Homo sapiens: one gene and its partners. The protein of the gene in region 2 interacts with the protein of the main gene of each other region in a pairwise test. Each region holds a gene or a part of one and is shown on either strand. Other genes may lie near its edges. The genes, in order: SERTAD2, CTNNA3, KATNAL1 and NDUFB7.

Region 1 (7,593 bases), on a different chromosome or scaffold from region 2:
AGTGTCTGTCCCATGCCTCTCTCCTGCCTTCTGGTGGTTTGCTGGTATCTTTGGCACTCCTTGGTTTGTAGATCCACCGCCCCAGTCTCTGCCTTCACTGTCACATGGCCTTCTCCATGTATGCATGTATGTGTTCAAATATCTTTTTATAAGGACATTAGCCACTGAATTAGGGCCCACACTAATAACCTCATTTTAACCTAATTACCTCTATAAAGACCCCACTTCCAAATTAAAGTCACATTCTGAGGTACTGAAACCTACCTTTTTGGGGGAAACAATTCAGCCCCTAACACCTCCCCAGCACTTCACACCCCACCTCACATTCCACTGCTGATTGAGCTGAACCTTCACTTCCCAGGTCTCACACATCCATCCCTTTTCCCTTGCCAGTGGTGTGGTGGCCCAACCACACCAAAATAAAAAACTGCCTAGGCCAGGTGAGGCCAGATCCCATGACTCCATCCAAGACAGCCCAGTGGCCAAGGAGGTTGCACAGGGTCTCCCCCACTCCCCACTGGAAGACAGCAGGGGCAGGGTCCAGATGGTATAATCAGTGGGTACACCTGGAGGACGTGCAACAACCACGTGACCCACTGGCATTTTAGAATGTCAACTCCAGCATCAGGGATGGTAGAGAGACGATCACAGCAGGAAGACTAGTCAGGAAACAGGTACGGCGGTCAGAGGCAAGGAGAGAGAAAGGGTCCGAGCTGGGGACGCTATGGTGAGGATGGAGAGGTGGTGGCAGAGGGAATGACATGGCTGGGACTGCGGAACAGGGTGCAAGGGTGGGCAACTGAGCCAAGCGTGGAGCAGAGTGCTGAAGACAACGAGCCCACAGAAGAATCAGCCCCCAGGGGAAACGAGAGCTCTTTAGACGCGCTGAGAGTGAGGGAGCAAATCTTGGTAGATACTGAAGTCTGGAGCTCAGGAGAGAGGCAGGGGCTGGAGACCAGTTTTGAGAGTCCTGAGTGGATTAGATCACCTTGGGAAAGCAAGAGGCAGCAGGAATGGAGGCTCAGTGAAGTGCAGTCATGGGCCAAACCCTGGAAAAGACAATGTTTTAAAGAGAGCTGGGGCACAGATGTGAGAAAAAGGAGGTCCAGAAGGGTCCAAGAAGCAGGAGGAGAACCAGGAGAGAAGGGTGGTTCCTGAGACCAGGACGGTTCAGGAAGACCAACAGCACGCACTCCTTCGGGGCCCCCCTGCTGCTCTCTCTTGCTGGACTTTGCTTAATGTGAGCAAACTGTCACAAATAAGCTGATTGAGCTCCCATCAAAAGAAAACTGCAAGCATGCCTCTCTCATCTTTTAACTGTTTATTGTATAATATAAAACTACAAAAGTAAGACTGCTCATTTCCATGTACATTTAATCTGTCCAATTGTTTAGATTACAGCCCAAACCTACATGTGAATACAGCCATCTGGGTTCCGATGTAACGTCTGTAATATTGCATAGAAAAGGCACAGCTCTCAGGTCTGTGGGGGAAAGGTTATACCTCCTTTTTGACAAAAGCCCTCCTCAAAAACCATGCACCAAACATGTCACTATGTACATCTTTTTTCAAAATCTCGGTCATGCGCACATATGGCCTGCATTTCTCTTCCAAAACTTGTTATCCCCAAAAGAAGTCCAACTTTTTATTGGCTTTGTCTGCAATAGCATTTGATCCTGGCTAATTTTCAAGAACCATTCAGACTCATTCTTAGAAACACTGAAAACAATTGTACATAAGCAGGATGCACACAACTCCATGCCTCCAGGTGCGGGGCAGTTACAGGAAGGTAACCATTTACAGCCAGAAAAGGTTAAATATACTCTTTTCATTGTTTTCAGAAAATGTATAAAGGTCCAATTTGTAACAGCAAGGTTTTCAAATTAAGACAATTCGTATAGAGTAGCAATTGCTGCACGAAGTAGAGTCTTTTTTTTTTTTTTTTTTACATTTGTCATTTAAGAAGGCTGCCCTGCGGTATTCATAATTCATTGTTTACCACAAAGGTGGTTCATAAATTTAAGCTTTAAAAACGATCTGTAAGTTGATACTTTGGCTCTTTGGAGCTTATTTCATTAAGAAATTTTCCTTGATTGACCTCAGGGCAGCTGGGGCACTCCAAGGGGCTATGGCGATAAAAAGCTCAATTGGTAAAGACACTCGAGAGGTGCAGAGGAGGCTCTGGCCACTGCTCACCCTTTGGTATGAACAAGGGTGCCCATGTGGTTGCTCCTTCTGTCATCCAGAGAAAGTGCTACTAAAAAAACTTTAAAAAATATCAACCCTTTGATGCTTTTCTTAAAAATTTGGAGGTATTAAAACATTCCTCATACCTTTTGCATATTTCAAATAGACCCATATTAGAGAAGAGTAAAAATGAATGCGGACTGTGCATACAATGAGAAGACCTGGGGGCCTGGCTTGGACCCCCTTTTAATACAGATTTACATTCCTACAAGAGAATACATTCCTACCATACATTCTGCACATGTTACGATCCAGATGTTAGCGCTCCACAGTAAAATAAATATATTTACACAGAAAAAAGGAATAAATAACTTATGGGGGGAAAAAAACTCACTTCAAATTCAAAGCTCTTACGATTCTGCTCTCATCTTGTCACTTCATTGCACATCAGTGTCAATAACTGTCCTCTCCCAGCCCCAGCTCGGTTTTCTCGTAAAGGCACCTCAAGCTGCCTGCCTGGCCCTGGATGCCATGTGATGTCTTTCATAAAGGGAAGGCACTGCTGGAAGCACATCCCACACTCAAACTGGGACTTGGAGATCCCACTCCAGCTCCTACTGTTCCCTGTTGGGACATCACTTTGTAAGAATAGGATGCAAAAGCAATTAGAACCCTAGATCATTTTGATCTTTCTGAAAATGGGCTGCTAATTTTCCATGTCTTTCTTGTTAGACTTTGAGTATCAGGGATTTATGGCAACGGTGTCAGAGTTAAAAAGCATTTGCCTGCTGTTTTTGGGGTTTTTGTTTTGATTTTGAAGCCCAGCCTTACAAATACATAAGAGTCAGAGAACCAAGTTTGGGCAACACTTCTCCGTGCTTATTTGAACTGTTGCCCAACATATGGGATTTGTTTAAACACATGATTTGCTAATCCAACAAAAGTACAGTTGTTGTAAGTTACTGTAAATCAGTTTTTAACAATGGCAAACCAACTGTTTTACCCTGTTATTGTTCAGAATCATCAATACTATTGTATATGTGTACGTAGGTAGATGTGTGCAGCATGCGGCAGGTTTGCCAGGTCCTCCAGTTATAGAAAGCATGGAATCTGGGCAGACTTGTTCTCTGCAAGAAAGGGAAGCTCTTAAAATTAACAGGCATACTGACACTGGAAGCATCTACTACAACCCTCACCTCAGTTACATGGTCCCTGGTCCTATTAAAGGAAATGACACACCTGTAGCAGTACGAGGTGTCTGCGTGGAGGTTGCTTGTAGGAGAACAAGTGCAATTTGATCAGTTTCTCACTGCTCTACTGAGCTGATAATTAGCCTTTAAAACACATTCAAGTGGGGGGAAAAAGTAAATTAGAATGTAGAAAGCCTTTATCATATCATACTCAAATCTTTTGCTTAGATGAGCAGTTCCTTCATCACAAACGTCTTTGCTTTGCCATGTGCATTACAAAAATAAAACTAACTATGGCTTGCTTAAAGTGCCATTTTATAAAGTTGTCTTTTTTAATTAGCCAGAAAGACCCAATTTTATCCATGGCAAGAAGTGAGCAGAATTGGTGACTGAATATTGACAAATGACCAACAACAAAGACAACAACAACAACAAAACATCCCATAATTTAAAAATTTTTAAATAAATATAAAAGTTATTCCTAAAGAAGCCATCTGCATAACAATATAGGTTGTAACCTGCACTCAACAGCTAAAGTACCATTGGAAGAAAAGAAAAAACTGAAACAAGAAGGCCATAAACAGTTTCGGCAACAAGCATGATACATTGCAACCTTTTTAAAATTAAATGTACACCACTAGGAATAAAAAGCTACTTCTCAAGTGTGTCCTGGGAGATAAGGTGATGGGGGGGGGAATTGGGGGGAGGAGGGAAAACATGCATAGAAAGTCCTGTCTGAGTTTTGGGGTAAAACAGCCTTGACAAGTGTGAAGTAGCTGACTCAGGAAAGCAACCAGATGGGAAGCTGTGACGTAATGTGATGAACTCCAGGTTCAAGAGTCACACATGTTGTAAGAGTGCATCCCGGGCCGGCCGAGGCGAGCCAAGCTCACTGTGGTGATCACGAAGATGCCATTTTCAGCTCTTAGCAACACAGGGAAAGCTCTAGGGAAAGGAAGCTGCAGAAGACAATTAAGCAACATGATGGATGCCTTCTGGGGAGATTTTCTTCTTTAAGGGCCCTAAGCATTGCAACAGGGCTGAGTTCCATGAAGAAGTTGGTTGCTTTTCGGATGTAAAATTTTGTTCGGATGTAAAATTTCAGGTCATCATAAAAATTATGCCAAAAAGGAAAGATCTGGGTTTTCATTAAAAAACAAAATAAAAACAATTAAAAGCGCAAACTTGGCATAAATACACTCTTAAGAAAGACAGTAGCTTTACCCTCAAAAGAGGGAGCAAAAGAGAACCATCACTTAAACCCCCAGCTCCACAGCCATCTCCCGCCAACTGCTTAATGCAAGTTTGATGAGCACATGTGGCTCTGGCTTTGGAAGTCACAGTACTGGCGGGTGTTGGTGCCAGGGGGTCAGTGCTTGTGAAATTTGGGTGTGATATCACCTGGCCCTTTCTTAAAGCACTGTGTGTGTGTTTATGGGTGTGTGCATGTGTGTGCCTGTGTTTGCATTTGGGGACATCAACTGCAGATTGATTTGATCCAATTTTCTCTTGCACCATACACATATAAAACATTACAACTCTATAAAAGTACAAGTGCAACTTGTACATCTGAAGTTTGCAGGAACTATGTGAGCAAATCCTATCAAAATAGCTATCTCATATGTATAAACAGCATTTGTTTTTAGAAAAACAATATCATAAACTGCAGAATCTGTACAAAAATATAAAATAAATTTGGGCAGCAGTTTTCTAAACAGCCATGTAAATGCAACACTTACGAGGAGTAGTTAATGCCTCTAAAAAGGCCGAATTGCCAAGTCAACCTATACAGGGCAAAAATGCCAGAAAAGGTACTGAGATTATCTAAATAAGATATATATATATAGTTTTCTTCTTTACCTCTTGCAATAAAACTTATAGAAAAAATAGACAAATATGCACATGCAATTTACAGCTTTTCCAACTTAATCCTTGTGCTTCACTTGAACTGTTTATTTTTGTCATTCAACATTGCAACATTGTCTTCAAATGGATTCTTTCCTATACCAGGGTAGTAGGTCTCTGAGGAACCACTCAAAAAAGTGTATTAAAAGTGGTCATACTTGGATGAAGGCACTCCAACTCTGCTCAAAGCAAAAACTAGTGTGATCCTGTTGTAAAATTTTCTTTTTCTCTGAAAAAGGCAAGCAAGGGTGCATGCACAGTGTGGAGAACTGTCAGGGTTATGGGAACGCTCTGGGGTCTGGGTGGGCATAGTCGCTGGGTCCCTGGGTCTTAGGACCCAACAAGCACCTCCATGATGTGGTCCAGCTCTGTGAGGTCCATTTTGAAAGGCTGACTTGGGGTGACAGGCTGACTGCTGTAAGGAGCCAGAGTTTTGAGGAGGTCGTCGGCAGACACAGGGGCCATTTTTGAGGCTGTCCCTGATGAGGAAGTGCAGGGGTCAAAATCATACATGGACGTATCAATGTCAGCAAACAGGATGTCATCCAGGGTCAAGTCTGTCAGGAAACCCGTGGACGTCGTTATTTCAAAATTCCCAGGCAGAGAGTCCATCAGTTTTGAGTCATCTGCGCGGCTCTCTTGAGGACCGTCGAGTTTCTGGGTGCCAGCCTCGCTGGAGGTCCCTTTCACACTGTCAGTCGCAGCCGTGGCCGCCTCTGTGGAGGTAGATGTGGGACAGAGCTCCTCGATCTCGTCCAAGGCAGAGGAGAAACTGTCCTTTTCTGGCAAGAGGGCTGGAGGTGACAGTTTGGTGGGAGCCGTGGGCTGCATGGCCTGGGAGGTGCAAAACGTGTCATCGTCGTCCTCGAGCAGTGAGGCCGGGGTGAGGCAGGCCTCCAGGGGCGTAGTGCTTCCGAGGTCGCAGGGGTGGGAGGACGGGGACGCCAGGTGGCTGAAGGCCGGCGGGGCCTCTCGGTAGCTGTCGCTGGGCTCGGTGGTGGGCTGGGAGGAGGGGGTGAACATGGGCCTCAGGCTGCCTTCCTGTTTGAGTTCCTCCTGGATCCGCCTCAACATGTTGTTAATTAAAACGGTCTTTTGCAAGCTGGGCTCTGTCAGGGGCCTGTGGTTATAGAGTTTCATAAGGGAAATGTTGAAGATAGTCTGGCGCTGTAAGGTGTAAGACACCTTGGATGGACCGTCACAGGGAGACACGATTTTGCCTTCCAGCCCATCTTCATGCTCATCAAACTTCCGTTTTCCTCCTTTACCCAACATATATCTGCAGAGGGGAGAGAGAGGAAATGGCATTAATCACATGAAAGCTGATTTCTCCCATAAAAAAAGAGACTGATTTAGAGGGCAGGACTTGGACCTCAGTTTCCTGCCCAGGGTTATTTACAAGTACACGTGGATTAATTAGGGGTGGGAGGAAGGAAGACCTTTTACAATAAGAGAGAGTTAGAAAATCCACCTTTGTATGCCTGTGGAGCAATTTTTATCACTAGGTAGTCTGGTGAGTGTATTTCTTGAGAAATGTGTACGACACAGACAAGTTAAGAATTACCATGGAAACCATGATTTTGACTTTCTCAGCTCATGTGCTTGTGTTCGCATGCCTAAGATTATCATGCAGGTTCGATTTCCCTCCCCCACGTAGATTTATTTTTAAAGCCCAAGAAAACACTTACAATGCTATGACCTAAACAGATACAGGTGTCATAGATTACAGCTTGAGCACTTCTTAAAGGATTAAAAGAACCAAGTTAAAGAAAGGTAACATGTATAATTTGGGTAGAACTGTGTGTGCTTTCAAAATGCTTTTCCTTCCTCATTAAGCACGGAGTCTTTCTGCCTGGTTGGGGACATGTGGTGAAGCACTGCACCTGTGTTAAATGACCACAGTGACTGAGCCGCCGCCACTTTTCATTTAGAATCAAGGGGAGGAATGCGTATGTCCCAGCCTAAGTTCTTCCTTGGCTCAACTTCATCCACACACAGTTATGTTTGAAGACAACTGGATTAATTTTGAAGTAATTAGCTCTGATTATAAGCATTGCTGTTTGGGTACTCGAGACATTTCCTAACAAACTACCTCCTGTGATTCCAGAGATACATGCATATTTTGAGGAAACCATGACCTCATATCTCAGACCCTGAGAATCTGGTAATGGGTTGAATTTTAAAACTGCAGCCAGGAACTCCTGCCCCATCTTGCCTGCTGCTCACAGGCCAGGCTGTGTCCTCTCTTGCTCTGGCCTTAGTGAATACATTTTATCAACTGGTTGTCACCTTCTGGGGAGTGGGCCTTCCA
Region 2 (7,186 bases):
TCCCTTTCCCAGTTCTAAGGCTTGGGTAAGTGCCACTAGTTCTGCTAACTGGGTGCTGGTCCCTGGGGGAAGAGGCTTAGTTTCAAGTACTGTTACTATGGCATAACCTGCCCTTCGTATCCCATTCTCCACAAATGAACTTTCATCGGTATATAGGTTAAGGTCAGGATTAGCTAAGGGGACTTCTAAGAGATCATCTTGGGTGGCATAAGTCTGGACTATAACCTGTTGGTAGCCATGCTTGACCAGCTCCTCATCCTCTGGTAGAAAAGTGGCAGGGCTGAGGGCCACACATGTATGCACTTGAAGCACTGGTCCCTCAAGGAGTAGCGCCTGGTATCTAAGCAGGCGGTTGTCTGATAACCATAAACTTCCTTTGGCACCTAGTATGCCATTTACATTGTGAGTAGTCCAGACAGTGAGATCCTTTCCTTGTATTATTTTGATAGCCTCTGACACTAAGACAGCCACCGCCACAACTACCTGTAAACAGTGAGGCCAGACTTTTGCTACTATATCAATTTCCTTACTTAGGTATGTCACTGATTGTGGGGTTGTCCCATGAGTCTGAGTAAGGACCCCAAGAGCTATTCCTGCTCTCTTTGTGATGTATAAAGAAAAGTTTTGTCCTGTGGGAAGGCTTAAGGATGGACCTTGAGTTTGTTCCTTCCAATGCCCAGACTTCAGGGTTGATTCCCTCCTCAAGCAGGGGACAACAAATGGGTAACTTGTTCCCCATATTCATAGATAATAGCTCCAGCTTTGGCTAATATGTCCCTCCCTAATAAGGGTGTGGGACTTTCAGACACAACAAGAAAGGCATGTGAAAAGAGCAAAGTCTCCCAGTTACAACTGAGGAGGTGGGAGAAATACCTGGTTACAGGCCATCCCAGGATTCCTCAGATGGTAACGGACCTTGAGGACAGCTGTCCAGGACAGGAGATTAACACTGAGAAGGCCATGCCAGTGTCCAGGAGGAAATCAATTTCCTGGCCCTCAATGGTTAAACATACCCGGGGCTCAGTGAGGGTGATGACATGAGCTGGCACTTGCCCCGGGCATCCTCAGTCCTGTTGTTGGATCATCTGGTTGGGGGCTTCTGGCCCAGAGAACCATTGTACTCTGGGGCAGTGAGCCTTCCAGTGATTGCCTCCGCATAGTGGACATGGGTGAGGGAGCAGCTTATTTCTAGTAGGACAATCTTTTTTAAAGTGTCCTTGCAAACCATACTGAATACAAGCCCTACCAGGTGATTGACCTGCTCTATTTTCTGTCCTCTCTGAACCACCAAGGTTTGTTTGTCTGAGGGCCATGACTAAGGCTGTGGCCTTTCTCTGATCTTGCTTTTCTTTTTGGGCCTGTTTCTCTTGGTCCCTATTATAGAACACCGAGGTTGCCAGGTTTAATAATGCCTCCAGATTTTGTTCAGGGCGCAAGGCTCGCTTTTGGAGCTTTCTCCTGATATCTGTGGCTGATTAGGTAATAAACTTATCTTTTAGAATCAATTGACCCTCGAGTGGGTCGGGTGACAGGAGAGTATATTTTCTTAAGGCCTCCCATAGCTGTTCGAGGAAGGCAGAAGGATTTTCTTCCTTTCCCTGAGTTACGGTGGACATCATTGAATAATTCACAGGCTTTTTCCTAATTCTCCTTAGTCCTTCTAAAACACAGGTCAACAGATGTTTGCAACTCCAGTCCCCATGATCTGAGTCGAGGTCCCAGTGGGGATCCATACTGGGGATGGCTTGCTGACCAGTAGGGAATTTGCCCCTTTCTTCGACTGTCATTCTATCATTTACTTGACTAAGATACCAGGTATCTCCAAACTCTCGGGCTGCAACTAAAGCCACATTCTTTTCATTAAAGGCCAGAGTTTGACCTAATAGCATGATATCTCTCCAAGTGAGGTCAAAGGTTTGCCCTAGACCCTGTAAGACATCTATATACCTAACAGGATCATCTGAAAACTTCCCCAGATCTGCCTTGATCTGCTTTAAATCAGAGAGGGAGAAGGGGACATGTACCCGGGTTGGGCCAAATTCCCCTCCCCCTACAGCTTGAAGGGGACATAAATGATAGCTCAGGGGTTTTTGTGGTCCTTTGGAGATTTCTTTGTTTGTTTCCTTCTGGGTGGGGGAGATTAGAGGAGGCTTATCATTAATAGGAAGGGGAGCTATAGGGAGGCTAGGATATGGAGGTAAGCTGAGAGGTCCTCCTGTGGGATGTAAATTGCAAGTTTTGCATAGTTGTGTATTCTCCTTCAATGAAAAGAAAGCTTGGACATAAGGTATTTCACTCCATTTGCCTTCCTTCTTACAGAAAAAGTCAAGCTGCAGGATAGGATTGTACTTTATACTTCCTTCAGGTGGCCATCTTTCCCATCAGAGAGAGAATATTGGGGCCAGGCCATAGTGCAGAAAAAAGTTAGCTGCCTCTTTTTCAGGGTTTGCAGGTCAAATTGGTCCCAATGGCTTAGGATGCATTTCAAGGGTGAGCCTGTTGATGCCTGAGTGTTTCCCATCTGAAAGACAAAACCACCCTTGGTCTTGGTTTGTTTCTACCCCTCCCCAAGAACCCACAATAGTCCCTGGACCCTGCTGATTGGAATAGTTGCACTTACTGATGCAGCAACAGAAACACCTCTTGCCCAAGAACCCGCAACGGTCCCTGGACCCTGCTGATCAGAATAGTTGTGCTCACCGACGCAGCATCAGAAACACTAGTTTTCCTCTTAGACCAAAAAGAGGACCGAGGAAGGTCAGATTTAGTGGCCCTTACTGATGCATTCTCAAAAACCTGCATTCTTGCCTGTCCTCTTAGACCACAAAGAGGACCAAGAAAAATTGGATTTAGTGGCCCTTACCGATGCATTCTCAAAAAGCTGTTAGAGTCCTAAGCATTATCCTGTTAGTATTGGGACCTTACCACTGTCCTATAAAGATGTTATGCCCCAAAAATGAACTGGACGGACATACCCTGAGAGAGGGAAAGGATCTCCAGAGTTGGAAGAGTGATGCTTTTTGTCCTCACTTATATGAATAGGAAAGATACCATTTCCGAAGCTCCCCATATCCTAGCTTCAGGAATAGCTTTTGTTAGGCCTGCTTGTCTGAAGAGGGATCCTAAAATTCCAGATAGTCCCTTGCCCAGATGGGACTTTGGGCAAAAATTATGTCTTTCTGATTGGTGAGCCCGGGTGCCTAAAGAAGGTAAAAGAGTCCTGAAGTTTATACTAGAAATCATTCTTATAGGAGAAACTAGAAAAGCACCAGAGACAGGGAGTGCTTTTTAGAAGTGGACTAGCCTCAGAGAAGAGAGGCGAGAGGAAGTTTGTCTGACAGGCATTAGGACCCAGGAGGCAAGGGTCAGGAGATAGGATAGATGGGCAAGTCTCGCTTGGGTGACATGATTTTGAGAGTTCCACTCATGGCCGCAGGGTCAACCAACTTGTTGTTGGGACCCCGGAGCTGAATGGCTTTCCTCTCTGTCAACCCTCGGCTCAGCCTGGAAGTACCATTAAAGTGGAAGCTGGCTCCAGGCAAACCAACATTCCCAACTCCATAGAGTCAGGGATTGTTAGAGAGCCCTATCCCAGAAAGCCTGGCACCTGTGTCTTTAGTCCAGCGGCCGCGCTAGTTGCTTTTAGCTGACCGACAGGTGCCCAGTATTTACCCCCAGAATTCTAAGGAAAAACAGGACAGAATAGCAAGCAAAAGGGGTCTGATGGTACTCATCACTTGGCAATAGGCGAGAGTCCCATCTGGGTTGCCAAAATGTGTCCAGAATTGGTTGCTTCTGGTGGGTTCTTGGTCTCGCTGACTTCAAGAATGAAGCCGCAGACCCCACGGTGACTGTTACCACTCTTAAAGATGGTGTGTCTGGAGTTTATTCCTTCAGATGTTCATATGTGTCCGGAGTTACTCCCTTCCGGTGGGTTCGTGGTCTTGCTGACTTCAGGAGTGAAGCCACAGACCTTCACAGTGAGTGTTACGGCTCTTAAAGGCAGCACGTCTGGAGTTGTTTGTTCCTCCCAGTGGGTTCATGATCTGGCTGACTTCAGGAATGAAGCCACAGACCCTCACGGTGAGTGTTACAGCTCATAAAGGTAGTGCGGACCCAAAGAGTGAGCAGCAGCAAGATTTATTATGAAGAGTGAAAGAACAAAGCTTCCACAGTGTGGAAGGGGACCCGAGCAGGTTGCCACTGCTGGCTCAGGTAGCCAGCTTTTATTCTCTTATTTGGCCCCCACCATGTCCTGCTGATTGGTCCATTTTACAGAGTGCTGATTGGTCCATTTTACAGAGTGACTGGTTCTGTTTTTACAGAGTCCTGATTGGTGCATTTACAAACCTTTAGCTAGACACAGAGCGCTGATTGGTGCATTTTTGCAGAGTGCTGATTGGTGCGTTTACAAACCTTTAGCTAGACTAGACACAGAGCACTGATTGGTGCATTTACAATCCCTTAGCTATTCAGAAAAGTTCTCCAAGTCCCCACCTGACCCTGAAGCCTAGCCAGCTTCACCTCTCAAGAGGAGATAAATGTTTATACAGTGTAACTTAAGCAACGCTACTCAAACTGCAGGTCTGCGATGAGAAAAGGAGCTTGTACCAGAATGTAAGTTAATGAGTGCTTCCTTCATCTAGAAAGTCTTGCTACAGCCTCTCCCTCTCCCTCTCCGTCTCTGTCTCCCTCTCCCCACGGTCTCCCTCTCCCTCTCTTTCCACGGTCTCCCTCTGATGCCGAGCCGAAGCTGGACGGTACTGCTGCCATCTCGGCTCACTGCAACCTCCCTGCCTGATTCTCCTGCCTCAGCCTGCCGAGTGCCTGCGATTGCAGGCGCGCGCCGCCACGCCTGACTGGTTTTCGTATTTTTTTGGTGGAGACGGGGTTTCACTGTGTCGGCCGGGCTGGTCTCCAGCTCCCAACCACGAGTGATCCACCAGCCTCGGCCTCCCAAGGTGCTGGGATTGCAGATGGAGTCTCGTTCACTCAGTGCTCAATGGTGCCCAGGCTGGAGTGCAGTGGCATGATCTCGGCTCACTACAACCTCCACCTCCCAGCAGCCTGCCTTGGCCTCCCAAAGTGCCGAGATTGCAGCCTCTGCCTGGCCACCACCCCGTCTGGGAAGTGAGGAGCATCTCCGCCTGGCCGCCCATCATCTGGGATGTGAGGAGCCCCTCTGCCTGGCTGCCCAGTCTGGAAAGTGAGGAGCGTCTCTGCCTGGCCGCCATCCCATCTAGGAAGTGAGGAGCGCCTCTTCCCGGCCACCATCACATCTGGGAAGTGAGGAGCGTCTCTGCCCGGCCGCCCATCGTCTGAGATGTGGGGAGCACCTCTGCCCTGCCGCCCCGTCCGGGATGTGAGGAGCGTCTCTGCCCGGTCGCCCCGTCTGAGAAGTGAGGAGACCCTCTGCCTGGCAACCGCCCCGTCTGAGAAGTGAGGAGCCCCTCCGCCCGGCAGCCGCCCCATCTGAGAAGTGAGGAGCCCCTCCACCCAGCAGCCACCCCGTCTGGGAAGTGAGGAGTGTCTCCGCCCGGCAGCCACCTCGTCCGGGAGGGAGGTGGGGGGGTCAGCCCCCCGCCTGGCCAGCCGCCCCGTCCAGGAGGTGAGGGGCGCCTCTGCCCGGCCGCCCCTACTGGGAAGTGAGGAGCCCCTCTGCCTGGCCAGCTGCCCCGTCCGGGAGGGAGGTGGGGGGGTCAGCCCCCCGCCCGGCCAGCCACCCCGTCCGGGAGGGAGGGAGGTAGGGGGGTCAGCCCCCCACCCGGCCAGCCGCCCCATCCGGGAAGTGAGGGGCGCCTCTGCCCGGCCGCCCCTACTGGGAAGTGAGGAGCCCCTCTGCCCGGCCAGCCGCCCCGTCCGGGAGGGAGGTGGGGGGGTCAGCCCCCCGCCCGGCCAGCTGCCCCCTCCGGGAGGGAGGTGGGGGGTCAGCCCCCTGCCCGGCCAGCCGCCCCCTCTGGGAGGTGAGGGGTGCCTCTGCCCGGCCGCCCCTACTGGGAAGTGAGGAGCCCCTCTGCCCGGCCACCACCCCGTCTGGGAGGTGTACCCAACAGCTCATTGAGAACGGGCCATGATGACAATGGCGGTTTTGTGGAATAGAAAGGGGGGAAAGGTGGGGGAAAGATTGAGAAATCGGATGGTTGCCGTGTCTGTGTAGAAAGAGGTAGACATGGGAGACTTTTCATTTTGTTCTGTACTAAGAAAAATTCTTCTGCCTTGGGATCCTGTTGATCTGTGACCTTACCCCCAACCCTGTGCTCTCTGAAACATGTGCTGTATCCACTCAGGGTTGAATGGATTAAGGGCGGTGCAAGATGTGCTTTGTTAAACAGATGCTTGAAGGCAGCATGCTCCTTAAGAGTCATCACCACTCCCTAATCTCAAGTACCCAGGGACACAAACACTGCGGAAGGCCGCAGGGTCCTCTGCCTAGGAAAACCAGAGACCTTTGTTCACTTGTTTATCTGCTGACCTTCCCTCCACTATTGTCCTGTGACCCTGCCAAATCCCCCTCTGCGAGAAACACCCAAGAATGATCAATAAAAAAAAAAAAAAAAAAAAAAGTCTTGCTACAAAGTGCTTAGGGTGTAGCTGATTTACTTTCAGGCACAAGCCTCTTATCTCGTTTCATAGATTAGTTAAAAATTGGGAACTTCTAATTACATTTTGAACAGTGCTAATTTAAAGTAGGGGCCTCCATTGTTCAAGTTCCAGTATTTGAGAGACTTTCTTTGCACTAAACATTGCCTTCTCCTTCAAATCAATTTCCCCATTGCCAGGAGGCATCTGAAGCAGAAAATCATCCTGGTTAGGATAATGAAAGGCAAAGAAAAGAGGTGGGGAGGGTGCCAAATAAACTTGACCTAATCTTCCATTTTGCACACAGGAACTCAAAGTCACCTATCATATGCTAGAAGCTAGTGATTAAATTGGTTACAGATTACTCGCTGAATCCCAGGCAAAAATAATGTGGTTAAAAACAGTATTTAAGCATGTGAAAAATCAGATGTATCGGCTAACAGTCCTGTTCACCTTCAAAAATTCTGCAGCCTCAATTATCTGTCACTTTCCATTAGATTTGCAACTTTGCTAAACTCCGGAGTTCCACCCCGCTGTACCATCTCACTTAAAATCCAGTATCCAAACAAGAATCAGAAAATCACACTTTTTAAATCTCTAGACTAGC
Region 3 (8,935 bases), on a different chromosome or scaffold from region 2:
AGTCCAGACATTAAATACTGTCAGAATTGAAGAATTTTAGAGCCATTGAGCTCTCATATTATCTAGTGGAACTTCCTGTTTCTTTGAAGATGAAAACAAGGCAAAAGTACATTGGTATTAATGCCCTATACAATAACATTTTATAGCATTAACGGAAGCTTCATTTTAAAAAATTGATTAGTCCTCAGACTCTAATCATCACTTTGTAATATAACTACTACCTGATCCACCTGCTTAATATGGTCAAGTAAAGTCTAGAACAGGGCCTTTCTATCAGACAGAACTGGCAGTCCTGCCACACTGTTAGTAAGGAAGTGGGAGAAGAAATGCTTTCAGTTGTTGAGCACTTTAGGGTTTACCTCCACTAAACTGTTTCAACTTCCCAAAATCAAATAAATAGTATTAACACCTCATATGAAATAAGGGTACAGATTTGGAGACCTGCCTATGATCATGCAGAAAATAAGTTGGAGACACAAAATTAGACAACTTACTTTCTTTCCTTATTTTCCCCTCCTTTGTTATGCTCTCTCCCAGTTCTTCTTCCTCTATGCCTCCTAACTAGGGTCTCATTTGTAGGCTCCTCCCGCAAACACATACACACAACTCTTTTTTTTTTTTTTTTTCCTGACACGGAGTCTCGCTCTGTCACCAGGCTGGAGTGCAGCAGCATGATCTTGGCTCACTGCAACCTCTGCCTCCTGGGTTCAAGCTATTCTCCTGCCTCAGCCTCCTGAGTAGCTGGGACTATAGGTGTGCGCCACCATGTCTAGCTAATTTTTATATTTTTAGGAGAAACGAGGTTTCACCATCTTGGCCAGGATGGTCTCGATCTCTTGATCTCCTGATCTGCCCGCCTCAGCCTTCCAAAGTGCTGGGATTACAGGCGCGAGCCACTGCGCCCGGCCTACACACATTTCTTAAATGAGAGTTCCATATCCAAACCTCTTCCTTTTTCTTTTCTACTCATTACTCCAATGTGAGCTGGTCCATTCTCCCTTGTAGCTTTAATTACTTATCTATATGCAAACTTCTAACTCCAGCCTGCTCTCTCTGAACTCCAGACTAAAATGCACCTCCACCTGAATATCCCATAGGAACCTCTAACAAATGCTCAAAACTCAACTAATATCTTTATATTTCACCCCAATAAAAACCAGCTCCTCCTCATCTCAATCAACGGATTCACTATTACCTCAGTCATGCTAGCCAGAAACTGAGGAATCAATCAGCTAAGAGTTCCAAATCTAACTCCCAACATCCAAACTCTTATCAAGTCATATCAATTTTATCTCTTAAATATTCCTTGAATCCATGTCTTTCTGTAACTCCAAATGCTTAATTCAGACTCTCTTCACTTCTCTACTGGACTTTGTTTTTTTCTATTATACAACTGGCTTTTCTACTACCTGTAATGTTTCCCCTCCCAGGTCCATTCTCTACACTGGGGCTGGAGTTATCTTTCTAAAATACAAATCTGACGCCACCACCACTCTAGCTAAAATTCTTCAATGACTGCCCTATATCAAGAAAAATTCTAAACTCTGAATATGGTGCCAAGTACTTTAAGATCTGGCCTCACCCACTAATTGCAAGTATTCTGGGATCCAGTCATTCAGAACTACCTAGCGTTTCCCAAATACAAAATACTGATTCTTCAATCTATCCTTTGCTTATTTTGTGCCATCCATTTGTCCTAGAATGACTTTCCTCATCATCACTCCAGTGAAAGCTTATTCAACTATTTTAACACAAGTTAAAAGTCAAATCACACTGAAGGCCTCCCCTGACTTCCTTAGACAGAGTCAGGATCTTTCTACTAAATGACAGAGAATGGTCAGTGCTTGAGATCAGGACCAGACCCACCTGGGCTGAAATCCCAGGTTCACACGTTACCAGCTATGATTTTGAGCAAGGCCTCTAAAGCCTGTTTCCTCATCTCTAAAAATCAGTAACTACTTCACCAACTGTTTTGAGGATTAAGTAAGGAGTTGCATGCAAAATACTCCTCACAGCACCTGACATATTCAATAAATGTTACTGTTATGTGATTATTTCCTCTGGGCTCCTAGAGCAACTTGCACTTATCTCTACCACACTACTGTGATGACAAGACTGCCCATGCAGGATACAGACTATCTTTTTTCATCTCTTTATTCTCACCACCTGGCATAATGCCTGGCACATAGGTTCCTAACACATTTTGAATGAATAAATAAAATACTTCAAACCTTATGTTGTATCACATAAGGCCTCAATTTTGTTTTCTACCTGTCTTACTAAACCTACTTTCCATCTCCTCCTTGTACAAAATTGCAACCTCAAGTAAAATTTACACAGGTCAACTTCATTTTAATTAAGAGAAAGTTTTATAGGATTTGTGGTCTTTTTGTTTTTAAACACACACACACACAAACTCACAATAATATCAACAATTCTCCAACTTACTCCATAAAGCAGCAAATTTCTAGGATGGTTATCTACCTATTAAAAAATTTTAAAGGGTCGTCAAGGAAGGTTTCGTAAATCTGTGTCAGCTTCCTTTACCAGCAAGTCTTTGAGTCAACTCTAAGGACTCAAGTGTACTCCTGAACATAAAAAATATATAAAGAATTAACTAAATAATTAAAACATGGTATTTTTCCTTCCGAAAACATGCTGAGAAATTCTGAATAACACTGGAATAATCAAAGAATTATTGCTGCCTACTGCTAAAAAAGTCTGTTTTTAAAAGTTACTAGTAATTTAAAGCTGAACTAATCAAAATATGTGTAGGCAGTGTTCAGGCTGGCAAGGGGGGGGTGGGGTGGAGCACTCATTTCACAACCTTGAACCTCAAGAAATAAAATTCAAAAATGCAAAAAGTTAAAAATGCCAGATACCACCATATAATCGCAATGACATCTTTTTATCTATTTCCACACTTAACCTTTAAACATTACTGCCCTTTGAGTAATTACCAATTGATGGGTTTAATATGCAAACACCTCTGAGCTACTTTAAAACAAACATGACTAACCCAGAAATAAACGTATCCAGGAAAGGAGAAAAACCTGTTAAAACACGGTTTCTCAGGTCTCACATCCAATGTGTGACATACATACGGTTCTGCACCGAAAGGCAGCAACCTGCGAGGGTCAGAGGCGCCGAAGACCCGAGGCCCTGCAGCTTGGGCGGCTGCTCATCCCTGAGACTGTGCAGGGCGGTGGCCCAGCCGGGGTGGGGCTGAGCGCTGCAACTGGGGCGGGCCCAGCTACAGGGCGGGAAGCCCGAGGCTCACCTCCACTTCCCTTTCCCAACGCACAGAGCCCAGGTCCGCGACCACTCAACAGCCCCCTCAAGACAAAGAGAGATTTTTTTTTCTGTCCCGGTCCGCTCAAAGTTTATCGGTCTTTCCCGGCGGTCGGGGCCGCCGGGCTTTGTAGTTCGCCAGTCCGAGCTACCCCACCAAGACCGCGAGCCCGAGGAGTCGCTGAACTACAATTCCCATGATGCACCGCGAGCCTGGCGCTCCCGCGCCCCTCCCCGTCCCCGCACGGGAGCCAGCGCCCGAGGAACCCCGCAGCCCACTGCCCTGGCGTCTCCGGCAGTGGGAGGCCGAGAGGGGCTGTTGGCTAGAGCCCTCCACCACCTGCTGTCTCGCCCTCGCCCCTTTCTCTCGGATTCATTACCCAGAAGGCGCAGGTCCGGGCACATTCAGCGATGCGGTCCAGATGGGGTGCGGGTGGGGCGCAGGCCGCCGCCGCCGCCGCCGCCGAGTCCGTTAGCTCGCGACGTGCGTGAAAAGGCGGCGGCGGCGTAGTGTTGCCATGGCAGCCGCGGCCGCGCGGTGGGCGCAGCGCGGGAGGGAGCGCGGGGGCTGTGAGTCCGCTCTGGGGCGGAGCTTGGGACTCCCGCCCAGGTTGCCGGGGGGAGGGAGGTGCAGCGGCGCGGGGTGGGAGAGCAGGGAGACAGTGACATTGAGGAGGACGTGTGGCCGACTGAGCTCTGGTCGTGCTTGATGAGCCTGCCTCCACTGCGTCCAGCCCCCGTGGCAGGGCACCTTCGTGCCTGCTGCTTTCGGAGGTGATGCCAGTGGCGTCGAAGGAGGGGGCACCCGGGGCGTCGCAGCGCCTTTCCCGCCGCCTGTCCAGGCGTCCGCCGCTGGGTCTGCCCCCAAGGGATGTGTGGATCCTACGCCACCTCTGTGTTTTTCTCCAGTCAAACCGAATTGAAGTCTTTCGCACCCCCTTTCTCCATTCTCTGGGGAGGGGGATAGAAGGGAATCCTTCGATAAGATGGAATGCATATGGCCTTTAGGATTATTCAGGAGGTTTTAGAATTTGCAAATGGCATTGCTTTCGACTGAATTTGGATTTATGCTGTTTCTTGGCAATCGTTTGTGGACTCTAGGATAAACAGGTTAAGAGCGTGGGCTTCTAAAACGAATTCTTAGTTCACGTCCTGCCCCTGTGCTTGGTAGCTGATGACCAGAGGCGCCTTTCTCACCTCTTAACGTTTTGATCTGCAAAAATGGAGATATCCATCTTGCAACTCTTGTAAGAAATACACGCATTAATACTGATGAAGCTCTATAAAACAAAGCTTAGCATTTAACAATAGCTATTAAATATTAATTATTTAATCAATAGTGATAAAAGTCAGAATAGTGGTTGGCTGTCGGGGAGGAGTTTGAGAGAATTTTTTGTAGTGATGAAAAAATTCTATAGCTAAGAGTTTCGGTTACAGAAGTATATGCACTTGTCAAAACTCTTGGAATGGGACATTTAAGATTTGTACATTTCACTGCATGTAAATTTACCTCAAAAGAGAACATAAAAATGTGTTGTTATTATTATTAGAGCTATAGACTCTAATGGAAACTACAGAGATATTCTAGGCCCAATCTCTAGATTTTATAGATGGGAAAACTGAGGCCCAGAAATTTAATAGAAAAAAAGAGGAAGGGGAGTGAATTCGTGACCTTGTCATTTTCTAGTAATGAATATCTCCTGAAAAATTATGGTTGAAAATAACAAAAATGGCTCCTGTAATCCAGCTGAGTCATCCTACCACAGAGATTTTCTTGAACTTGACTGAGTCCCTTATCCACCTTGTGGTGTTCCCCACGGCCAATGTCCTCTCAAGGATTGCACCGTCACTTCTGGCTCTCAGTTCTTGCTTTTCCTGAACACTTAGACCTCTCCACATATCACCTCTTACAACTCTCCTCTCTCTACTCCTGCTGACACATAATTTCGAAATCAGCCCCTTTTCTTTGGTTGTTTCTATAGCCAACTCTTTAGAAGGTTTGGAGCAGATAAGTGGTTTTAAATTAAGGATGCAAAAAACCTAAAATTAGAAATCCCTGCTCTTAAAAGTCCTTCAGTTCCTCCCATGATATTTTTATCCACCTACCACCTACCCCCATTTTTTCATCATAACCTGTAACCTCCCACTATTGTACCATCTTTCTGGTCCCATCTCTCCCCTCCTCTCCTCTCTTTATACAATACTTTTATTTCCATCTCCTAATCTGTGCCTTCATAGCTACCTGCCATTCCTAAACTGTTTACCAAAGTTTTTTCCTACACAAAGTAACTTCCCAAGAGGAACTCTGGAGCCAGCTATTAAAATAATATTTTTTCACATATGTATCCTCATATTCTATTTGATTCAGTCCACAGTGTAGCTGCTCAATAAATATTAAGCAGCTTACGTACATGACCTGTTGATATAGTTTGGCTGTGTCCCCACCCACCTCTCACTTTATTGTAATAATTCCCACCTGTCAAGGGCAGGGCCAGGTGGGGATAATTGAATCATGGGCGCGGTTTCACCCGTACTGTTCTTATGGTAGTGAATAAGTCTCATGAGATCTGATGGCTTTATAAATGGGAGTTCCCCTACACAAGCTCTTTTGCCTGCCACTGTGTAAGAAGCCCCTTTGCTCTTCCTTCATCTTCCGCCATGATTGTGAGGCCTCCCCAGCCATGTGGAACTGAGTCCATTAAAACTCTTTCCTTTATAAATTACCCTGTCTTGGTTATGTCTTTATTAGCAGCATGAAAACGGACTAATACACCTGTCCTGGCTACCTTCACAGTGGGTTCACTTATGAAACCCATTTTCTTACATCCATAATAATGGTTTACTCTAGTATAAATGAGGAAGCTATGTGATAATAGCTGGAATCTGCTGTCTAAGAGGAAGAAAAGAAACCAAAGTAACCATAGCTTGTACAGAAGAAATGACAGCACTTAAGAGATGAAGTCCGGAACAAAGTCTGGTATGAAGCCATAGGACATCCTTATAGGAACTTGGACCTGTCACCTGCAGCAATTTGGTCACAACTCTGCATATGTAATGAGCATGTAAATAAATTCTCCTTTACTCCTGGAGAAGATGTTACTGATCTGCTACCAGCTGAACACATGTTTGTAGTAGGGATGATAGGTTCACCGGATCCATCTCTCCCTGATCTGGTTTCCCTTGTGACCGATCACTTGTCTTTCTTTGCAAGGCAGCTGGCCAAGGTTGTAGTGCAGCCTACAGCCATGACGAAGTCTCCAAAGACAAGGTCCCAATGCATAACGCTCCTTGTTTTGTGAAGCCAGGATCCCAGAAAATCAGCTCAGCAGGACAGGCCACTTGAGAATGGATGACAGCAGCACAAACAAAAGCTGTCACAAAAGTGAGTTGGAGGTGGGCAGTCGCGGGAGGGAAGACCACAAGCCACTGAAGCACAGCCTTAAAATGCCTCGCATGGCTATGGACAGGTAGGAACGAATAAGGACCGATAGTAAACCATAGTTTATTGTTTTCACCAGATACTTTGGACCTGTTCAAGTGATAGTTAAACACCCTATACAAATCCAAAAGATGGAGCTGAAAGTAGTAGCACATTAATCCACACAGGCAGTGTGGTCAAGAGCCACCACCCTCATTTACAGCGCATCTGGTTTACAGTTGAGGTCTTTCCTCAGTTCTTAGAGTTCTTGGCCTCTCTGGCATTTGACTTTGCTGACTACCCTCCTTGGTGGGTCCTTGACCTTGGATCTCTTCAGAGCTTTCCAACCAGACTTCATTATGTTATTCACCAGCTCTTTTACCTGCTTCTTAAATGTGAGGATAGTTGCCAAGGTTCAGTCACTACACCTTTTCCATTTGCAAGCTTCCGCCTTGGCCGTGGGTGATGCTCCAATTTCTCTTGCTAGTTCTGATCCACAAGTTCCAGCACTGCACAAGCAGGCCCACTCTTCCTTAACTTGTTCTGTTACTTCTGTTCTCTTCGTCTAAGATACCAGCGCCTTACCCTATCTAAGGTCTACGTATTCTGAAAACAAACCTTCACATGAAACCTTTCCAGATCATTCCTGCTCAGTCATATCACCCTGCTCTGTGCTCAGAATATTTCCTGCCAATCTCACTCCCTTGACAGCTGACCATACTGCTGAGTGGCTGCTCAGTATTGTTTACTCATTGGCTTTTTGTCTTTTCTCACTATATTTCAAGCTCCTCCAACGTGTATTTCTGGGTATTCTCAAAAACACCTTCATAATACTCTACATATAATAAGGGCACAATAAATGTTTTTGATTGGTAGTTCTTTTATCTTTTCCCCTTAGCAAAACTTCCTTTATCTGGTAGCTCTCCCTCTTCTAGTACTATGCAGGACATTTGCAGCCTCTTGATATAAATTTCCCTGAAGCCTATAACTGTGGGCCCCCATACATATTCAGTGGAGGAGTACCTTGGGAGGTAATTCCTTAAGTCGCTGTTGCTGTGGAAGGAATTCAGTATGTAAGTAGCACTGAATTCCAACGTTCAGGCCCTCTTACCGTAAAGATCTAGAGCAGAGTTTTCCTCACTGTGGGTCACAGTCTATTAGTAGGTCATGAAGTCAATGTGATGGGTCTCTTCCGGCTTTGTCATATTTAAAAAGTGATAAGGTAAGGTAGTGTAGGGTAAAGTAGAATGCAATAGAATGCGGTAGAAAATGAAATCCAGAGGGTATGTGCATGGTTAGGGTCAAGTATCGTATGGCAGTTACTGAGCTGTCATCTTTCAGCTTCAAACCTACCCTCTGTCCTCTGCTTTGTGTTGGTGGGGCTAGAATTGTGCAAACCACATTTCTCCTCTGTCATCTGGGTGGAGAGGCTGGGGCAGCACAGCAGGACCAGAGGAAGAGCACAAGGCTGGAGGAGAGGGAAGCAACTTGCTCCTTCCTGACAGCCTGCTATGCTTGGCAGCATCACTCCTGCCACAGACTTTTAGCCTGGTGGCAGTTTTACTTGTCTCCAGCTTCTTATTGTATCTCAACCAGCCTCATCGCATCTCTTCTCCCTCCTCCCCAAAGCATTACCTGCAGCAGCAGCCAGACAGTGTCCCTCTTCAGGAGCCTGTGCCCCAGCTTCAACAGGCCTTTCCTACAAACCCCAACCTCCTCTCCTCCCTTTGATCTCCAGCCCTTCAGGCGGGAGCTGCTTCTTGCAGTTATAACCTATGTATTACTCCAGTGTTCCTTTTTTAATTTTTCAGTCCTTGAACATCTGTCTAATCAATTCCCTGTGCTAAATTCTTGCTCTTAAAATACCTACTTAAAGTTTCTTTTTTCCTGACTGAACCCTGACTAATATGGATTGTTAAGTAAGATGTACTTCCTGCCATAAGTGTCCATCAAAAGGGTTTAAGAAACACTGCTTTAGAGGATTGGGAGTTCTTAAATAGCCAGATGACCTGAGATGCAGCTAAGGGGCCAGTCCTAACATGTAGAGGTACTCTGGATTTCAGGTCCATGAAAAGCAAAGATCCTGTTCCACTATAGCAGTTGTCACTGTTGGACCCCAGTCACAGCCTGACCTGTAGGGATCACTAGCGGTGAGCCTGCAGTTGTCCATCAGAGTATGGCCTGAACCCATATGGAATCTGTCCTCTCTCAGATATGCAGAAATTC
Region 4 (5,289 bases), on a different chromosome or scaffold from region 2:
GCCACATACACGGGTTGCGAGGCTGCCCACGCTCACTCTCCGCCCCTGCCCACAGGTGGGGTCCTGGATCGGTTTCGCCATCATGACGCAGTGTCTCCCAGGTGAGCCTGCCGCCCTCCCTCGGCGGGGCCCTGCCCCTCCGGGCCGGCAGCCCCTCCCTGACGCCCGTTCTTTCCTGCAGTGGCCCTGTTCTCCCTGGTGGGCTTCACCCAGATGACCATCTGGGCCAAGGGCAAGCACCGCAGCTACCTGAAGGAGTTCCGGGACTACCCGCCCCTGCGCATGCCCATCATCCCCTTCCTGCTCTGAGCGCTCACCCCTGCTGAGGCTCAGCCCCTCAACCCGGTGGCATTCTGGGGGAGGAGTGGGGCCCACAGCTCTCCAGCACCCGGAATAAAGCCCGCCTGCCCCAGTCGGACTCGGGCTCTGTGTGTTTCTTTCCGGGGTTGGGGACCACCACACTGCCCTTCACTCTCTCCCCACTCTCGCGTCGGAGCAGTAAGAGGGGACTCTGGTTGAGGGGCCTGAAGGCTTTTATTTGACTGGTCCATAGGGTGGGGGGTGCACCCCCTACAGGGCCACCTTGGGGTCCACTTCCCCGGGTCCCTGGCCTTTGGCCAACTCTGCCGCCTTCTTCTCCCGCCGCTTCTTCCGCTGGAGCAGCCTCCGCTCCCGCTCAAACTCCTTCATGCGCATCACATAGCTGGGGGAAAAGCACGAGAGGGGCTGTCAGGGTCCCTGGCCAGGACACGCCCCCCAAGCCCTGGGAAGCGGAGGGGCCGTCCCAGAGCACTGTGGGGGAGGCCTCTGAAGAAGACATGTCCGAGTGCCTGTGGCTTGGGTCTGGGGTCTGCCCACGCAGGTGGCAGGGCTTCCCACTGGAACCTGGGCTTGGCCACTCCCCTAGGTGGCTTCAGCCACCTGCCCTGTCCCCATCAAACAGGCCCCTAGAGAGCCCTCTCTGGGACTAAGGTGGGGCCCGGCTAGAAACCTCAGTGGCAGTTCAGGTCCCTGGCCTCTGGAGCCACATCCTGCCAGGGGCCAGGCCTGGGTGGGGTGCAGGCTGTGGGTGTTGGCGGGGGTGGGAGGGGGGCTTGGGCGGGCTGGGCATGTGGGGGGCTTGGGTGGGCCAGGGGTGTGGAAGGCTGGGGGTATGGGGTGTTGCGGGCCGGGGTGTTGGGGGCTGGTGTGGGGGTGCTCACTCGCGGTGCTCGCAGTAGTCCCAGTCGTGCCGCTCCTGCTTGCAGGCCAGGAAGTTGGGGAAGCTGTCACGCTTGCACTTGAGCAGCCGGATGAGGTGGTGGGCGCAGTAGTCCCGCAGCTGGAGCCTCAGCTGCGCGTCCATCATCTCCTGCTGTGTGGCCACCATCTCTGCAGGGAGTGGGCGGGGCTCAACCAGGCTGGAGGCTCCCCACCCCAATTCCGGGGATCCCCAGGGGACCGAGGCACACGGCTTCAGGAAGGCACGGCTTGGGGTGTCCCCCATTCACATCCAGATGGCAGTGGATGGCAGATGCCTTTGACGGATGCACTGTCCTGAAGGGGCCTCCTTTTCTAATTTGCACAAAGGCAACTCCAGACACCAAGGGCCAGACAGGAGAAGGTGGCTCCCCATCACCCTGAGGCACCTCAACATCCCGTGCCGGATCCTTGCCTCCCCTCCCACAGGGATGCCCGTCCCCAGCTCTCTACAGCCCCGCTCTCCAGAGTCCGAGTTCAGAATCCACCTTCTCCCAGAGTAACCCTCAGCCCCTCCACCTGCACCTGGGGCTCCAGGCAGCACTCCCAGCCTTTCTTGTCTGCAACCCACCCAAGGCCCAGCTCTGCACTGGCCGGCGGCGTGGCCTCTCTCTCAGCCTCAGAACTGACCATCCGGTCATGGAAGTTACCCGAGCATCCACTGAGCTAACAGTACCTGTAAGGTACTTAGGCGTGGGCTCAGAAGACAGCTGGACTAGTATCTGGGTCCCGGTGCCCCACTCACCTAGCAAACCTGACTCCGGACAAATCAACCTTCAGGAGGGGGCCGATGGGAGCATGAGGAATCCTGGACACTCACCCCGGAGCCTGTGCCTGGCGATCCTGCACTCGTTCCCCACCGCCTCCCTCAGACCCAGCCTCCCTAGCCCTCCTGACGTCCACCACATCTTTCTCGGTCCCAGCTCCTTCCCATCTGCGCAAGTGAGACGAGATATATTCACATCTCAATGGCAGTCGTCCCCTGCTGGCTTCTCTCCCCTTTGCTTCCCAGCTGCGATTCTCTCATCCCACTGAGGCCCAGGTCCTCCTCTCCTGCCCCTTGTCCCATTCCCTGGCTTCTGCCCTACCCCCTCACTGCCCAGACACGGGCTCTCACAGGGCCACCCAACAGCCCAGGACCCCAGCCTCCCGCTTCCTTCTTTCCTGTGGCTCCTCCCACATCCCTCCTCCCCAGGTTTCCTCCCATCTCTATGGCTGCCTTACCTTACGCTTTGTTCTGGGAGCCTTTTTCTTTTCTTTTGAGATGGAGTCTCACTCTGTCACCCAGGCTGGAGGGCAGTGGCAAGATCTCAGCTCACTGCAACCCCTGTCTCCCAGGTTCAAGCAATTCTCCTGCCTCAGCTTCCTGAGTAGCTGGAACTACAGGCGCCTGCCACCATGCCCGACTAATTTTTGTATTTTTAGTAGAGATGGGGTTTCGCCATGTTAGTCAGGCTGGTCTTGAACTCCTGACCTCAGGTGATCCACCCACCTTGGCCTCCCAAAGTGCTGGGATTACAGGTGTGAGCCACTGTGCCCGGCCTGAGAGCCTTTTTCTCTGCTGCCGCCCCGTATGTAGATGAGCCCGATGTGGTCCCTCCACCCCACACCTCGCTTGAGCCCCAGGCCTGGGTATCACCTGCAGCCCCTGGCTGTTCCCTATCTGCACTTGGAGCTCCAGGTGGCAATCCTAGACTCCTCCCTCTTTTGTCTTGAACTTATAATCAGCTAGCAGCAAGGACTTTAGACTGCCTACTGTGTGCTTAGTGGTGGGGATACAGCAGGCAACACAACACACAAGTGTCCCTGCCCTCAGAGGGAGACACAGAACAGACAGAAGACAGAGCACCACAGCGTGTCTGGCAGTGCTTAAGTATTAGGGAGACCAGCCTGGGGAGCACAGAAAGATCCCATGTCCAGAAAAAAATAAAATTATCTTTGCACGGTAGTGCACACGGAGTATCCAGAGCTACTCGGGAGGATCGCTTGAACCCAGGAGTTTGAGGCTGCAGTGGGTGATAACCACCCCACTGCACTCCAGCCTAAGCAACAGAGCGAGAGCCCATCTCTACAAACAAATAAATAAATATGGGCCAGGCGCGGTGGCTCACGCCTGTAAACCCAGCACTTTGGGAGGCCGAGGCAGGTGGATCACTTGAGGTCAGAAGTTCGAGATCAGCCTGGCCAACATGGTAAAACCCTGTCTCTACTAAAAATACAAAAATGAGTCAGGTGTGGTGGCACGCACCTGTAATCCCAGCTACTCGGGAGGCTGAGGCGGGAGAATCGCTTGAACCGGGAAGGCAGATGTTGCAGTGAGCAAAGTGACTGGCTGAAAGGGGGTGGAAAGGAGGAAAGAGAGGGCAGGGGACAGTGATCTAGGAGGGAGGGAGAGAGTGAAGGATCCGGGAGGTAAGAGAAAGGCCAGGCACCATAAAGAGTCCACTGGAGTACCAATCGGGAGACCGGTCAGCAGGGACTGCAGGAATGCGCCACCACACCCAGCTAATTAAAAAATAAAAATAAAAAATTGTAGAGACAGGGCCTTGCTATGTTGCCCAGGCTGTTCTTGAACTTCTGGCCTTGAGCAATCCTCCTGCCTTTGCCTCCCAAACCGTTGGGATTACAGGCATGAGCCATTTTGCCTGGCTTAGAGCTGTTTTTTTCTTATCTCCCCGCCCCCCATTATGTTCAGTTGCACGGGGATAGGCACCAAGGAAGGGAAAGAGGTGAGTTTATCCAGAGTAAGCAAGAGAGAAGGGCAGCAGGTTGCTAGCGTTTGCAAAGCTGATCTTGGGGAAAGCAAGGTATGTGAGGCAGTGGGAGGAAGGTGGACGGACCAATGAACTGCAGGTTCAGCTGGGGCGGAAGGACTACCCGGAGTGTGGACACTGGAGTGATTATACCATCTCCCAACTTTCTCTCAAATCCAGGCTGCTTAGAGGTCTCTGTCTCAAGCTTGTCGCCCACTCAGTAGACAGTGTGACCTTTTGACCAACCAAAACTGATTGTGTCCCTCCTCTGCTTAGAAGCTTGGCTCTGCCACCTCTCTTTGGTCAACCCCTACTCATGCCCCTTCACATCTTTGTTTTGTTTTGTTTTGTTTTTTCAGACAGTCTCGCTCTGTCACCCAGGCTGGAGTGTGGTGGCCTGACCTTGGTTCACTGCAACCTCTGCCTCCTGGGTTCCAGCCAATTCTCCTGCCTCAGCCTCCCAGACAGCTGGGATTACAGGCATGCGCCACCACACCTGGCTAATTTTTGTATTTTTAGTAGAGTAGAGACGGGGTTTCACCATGTTGGCCAGGCTGGTCTCAAACTCCTGACCTCAGGTGATCCACCGGCCTTGGCCTCCCAAAGTGCTGGGATTACAGGCATAAGCCACCGTGCCCGGCTTAATTTTTGTATTTTGTTTTTGAGATGGAGTCTTGCTCTGTCGCCCAGGCTGGAGTGCAGTGGTGTGATCTCGGCTCACTATAACCTCTGCCTCCTGGGTTCAAGCGATTCTCCTGCCTCAGCCTCCTGAGTAGCTGGGACTACAGGTGTGCACCACCACGCCCCTGGCTAATTTTTGTATTTTTAGTAGAGACAGGGTTTCACCACATTGGCCAGGATGGTCTCAATCCCCTGACCTCGTGATCTGCCCGCCTCGGCCTCCCAAAGTGCTGGGATTATGGGTGTGAGACACCATGCCCGGCCTCAATTTTTATATTTTTAGTAGAGATGGTGTTTCACCATGTTGGCCAGGCTGGTCTCAAACTCCTGACCCCAGGTGATCTGCCCGCCTTAGCCTCCCAAAGTGCTGGGATTACAGGCATGAGCCACCACGACCGGCCACCCTTCACGTCTTTGTTTCCAGCCACTGCCTCTTGGAAGCCTGCTTTGACACCCCCAGCTCTGCCTGATTCCACAATCTTTCCCACTGTGCTGAGTTCTCTGGAGACAGTGCCTGCATCCCTCCAGTTCCCTGCTGTATCCGCGGTGCCTAATGTGGGACGTGGCCCAGAGCTGGTGCTCGGTATGCCTGTGATATTACTACATTAAAAGCAAA

The links.
Region 1: the proteins of CTNNA3 (region 2) and SERTAD2 interact in binary tests that used the Homo sapiens proteins (3 or more experiments, as listed by UniProt).
Region 3: the proteins of CTNNA3 (region 2) and KATNAL1 interact in binary tests that used the Homo sapiens proteins (3 or more experiments, as listed by UniProt).
Region 4: the proteins of CTNNA3 (region 2) and NDUFB7 interact in binary tests that used the Homo sapiens proteins (3 or more experiments, as listed by UniProt).

Annotation. Positions count from the first base shown.
Region 1 is NC_000002.12:64,630,315-64,637,907, forward strand, and holds the end of SERTAD2 (SERTA domain-containing protein 2), read right to left. Parts: exon of another isoform or gene 6,610-7,593; intron 6,562-6,609; 5' UTR 6,558-6,561; coding exon 5,613-6,557; 3' UTR 1,307-5,612; downstream 1-1,306. UniProt on the Homo sapiens protein: Acts at E2F-responsive promoters as coregulator to integrate signals provided by PHD- and/or bromodomain-containing transcription factors.
Region 2 is NC_000010.11:67,686,196-67,693,381, forward strand, and holds part of CTNNA3 (catenin alpha-3), read right to left. Parts: intron 1-7,186. UniProt on the Homo sapiens protein: May be involved in formation of stretch-resistant cell-cell adhesion complexes.
Region 3 is NC_000013.11:30,303,660-30,312,594, forward strand, and holds the start of KATNAL1 (katanin p60 ATPase-containing subunit A-like 1), read right to left. Parts: upstream 3,893-8,935; 5' UTR 3,672-3,892; intron 3,353-3,671; exon of another isoform or gene 3,281-3,352; intron 3,198-3,280; exon of another isoform or gene 3,020-3,197; intron 1-3,019. UniProt on the Homo sapiens protein: Regulates microtubule dynamics in Sertoli cells, a process that is essential for spermiogenesis and male fertility. Severs microtubules in an ATP-dependent manner, promoting rapid reorganization of cellular microtubule arrays.
Region 4 is NC_000019.10:14,565,563-14,570,851, forward strand, and holds the end of NDUFB7 (NADH dehydrogenase [ubiquinone] 1 beta subcomplex subunit 7), read right to left. Parts: intron 2,540-5,289; exon of another isoform or gene 2,464-2,539; intron 1,372-2,463; coding exon 1,203-1,371; intron 704-1,202; coding exon 571-703; 3' UTR 516-570; downstream 1-515. Other genes in the region: TECR (very-long-chain enoyl-CoA reductase), read left to right, coding at 56-101, 182-309. UniProt on the Homo sapiens protein: Accessory subunit of the mitochondrial membrane respiratory chain NADH dehydrogenase (Complex I), that is believed not to be involved in catalysis. Complex I functions in the transfer of electrons from NADH to the respiratory chain.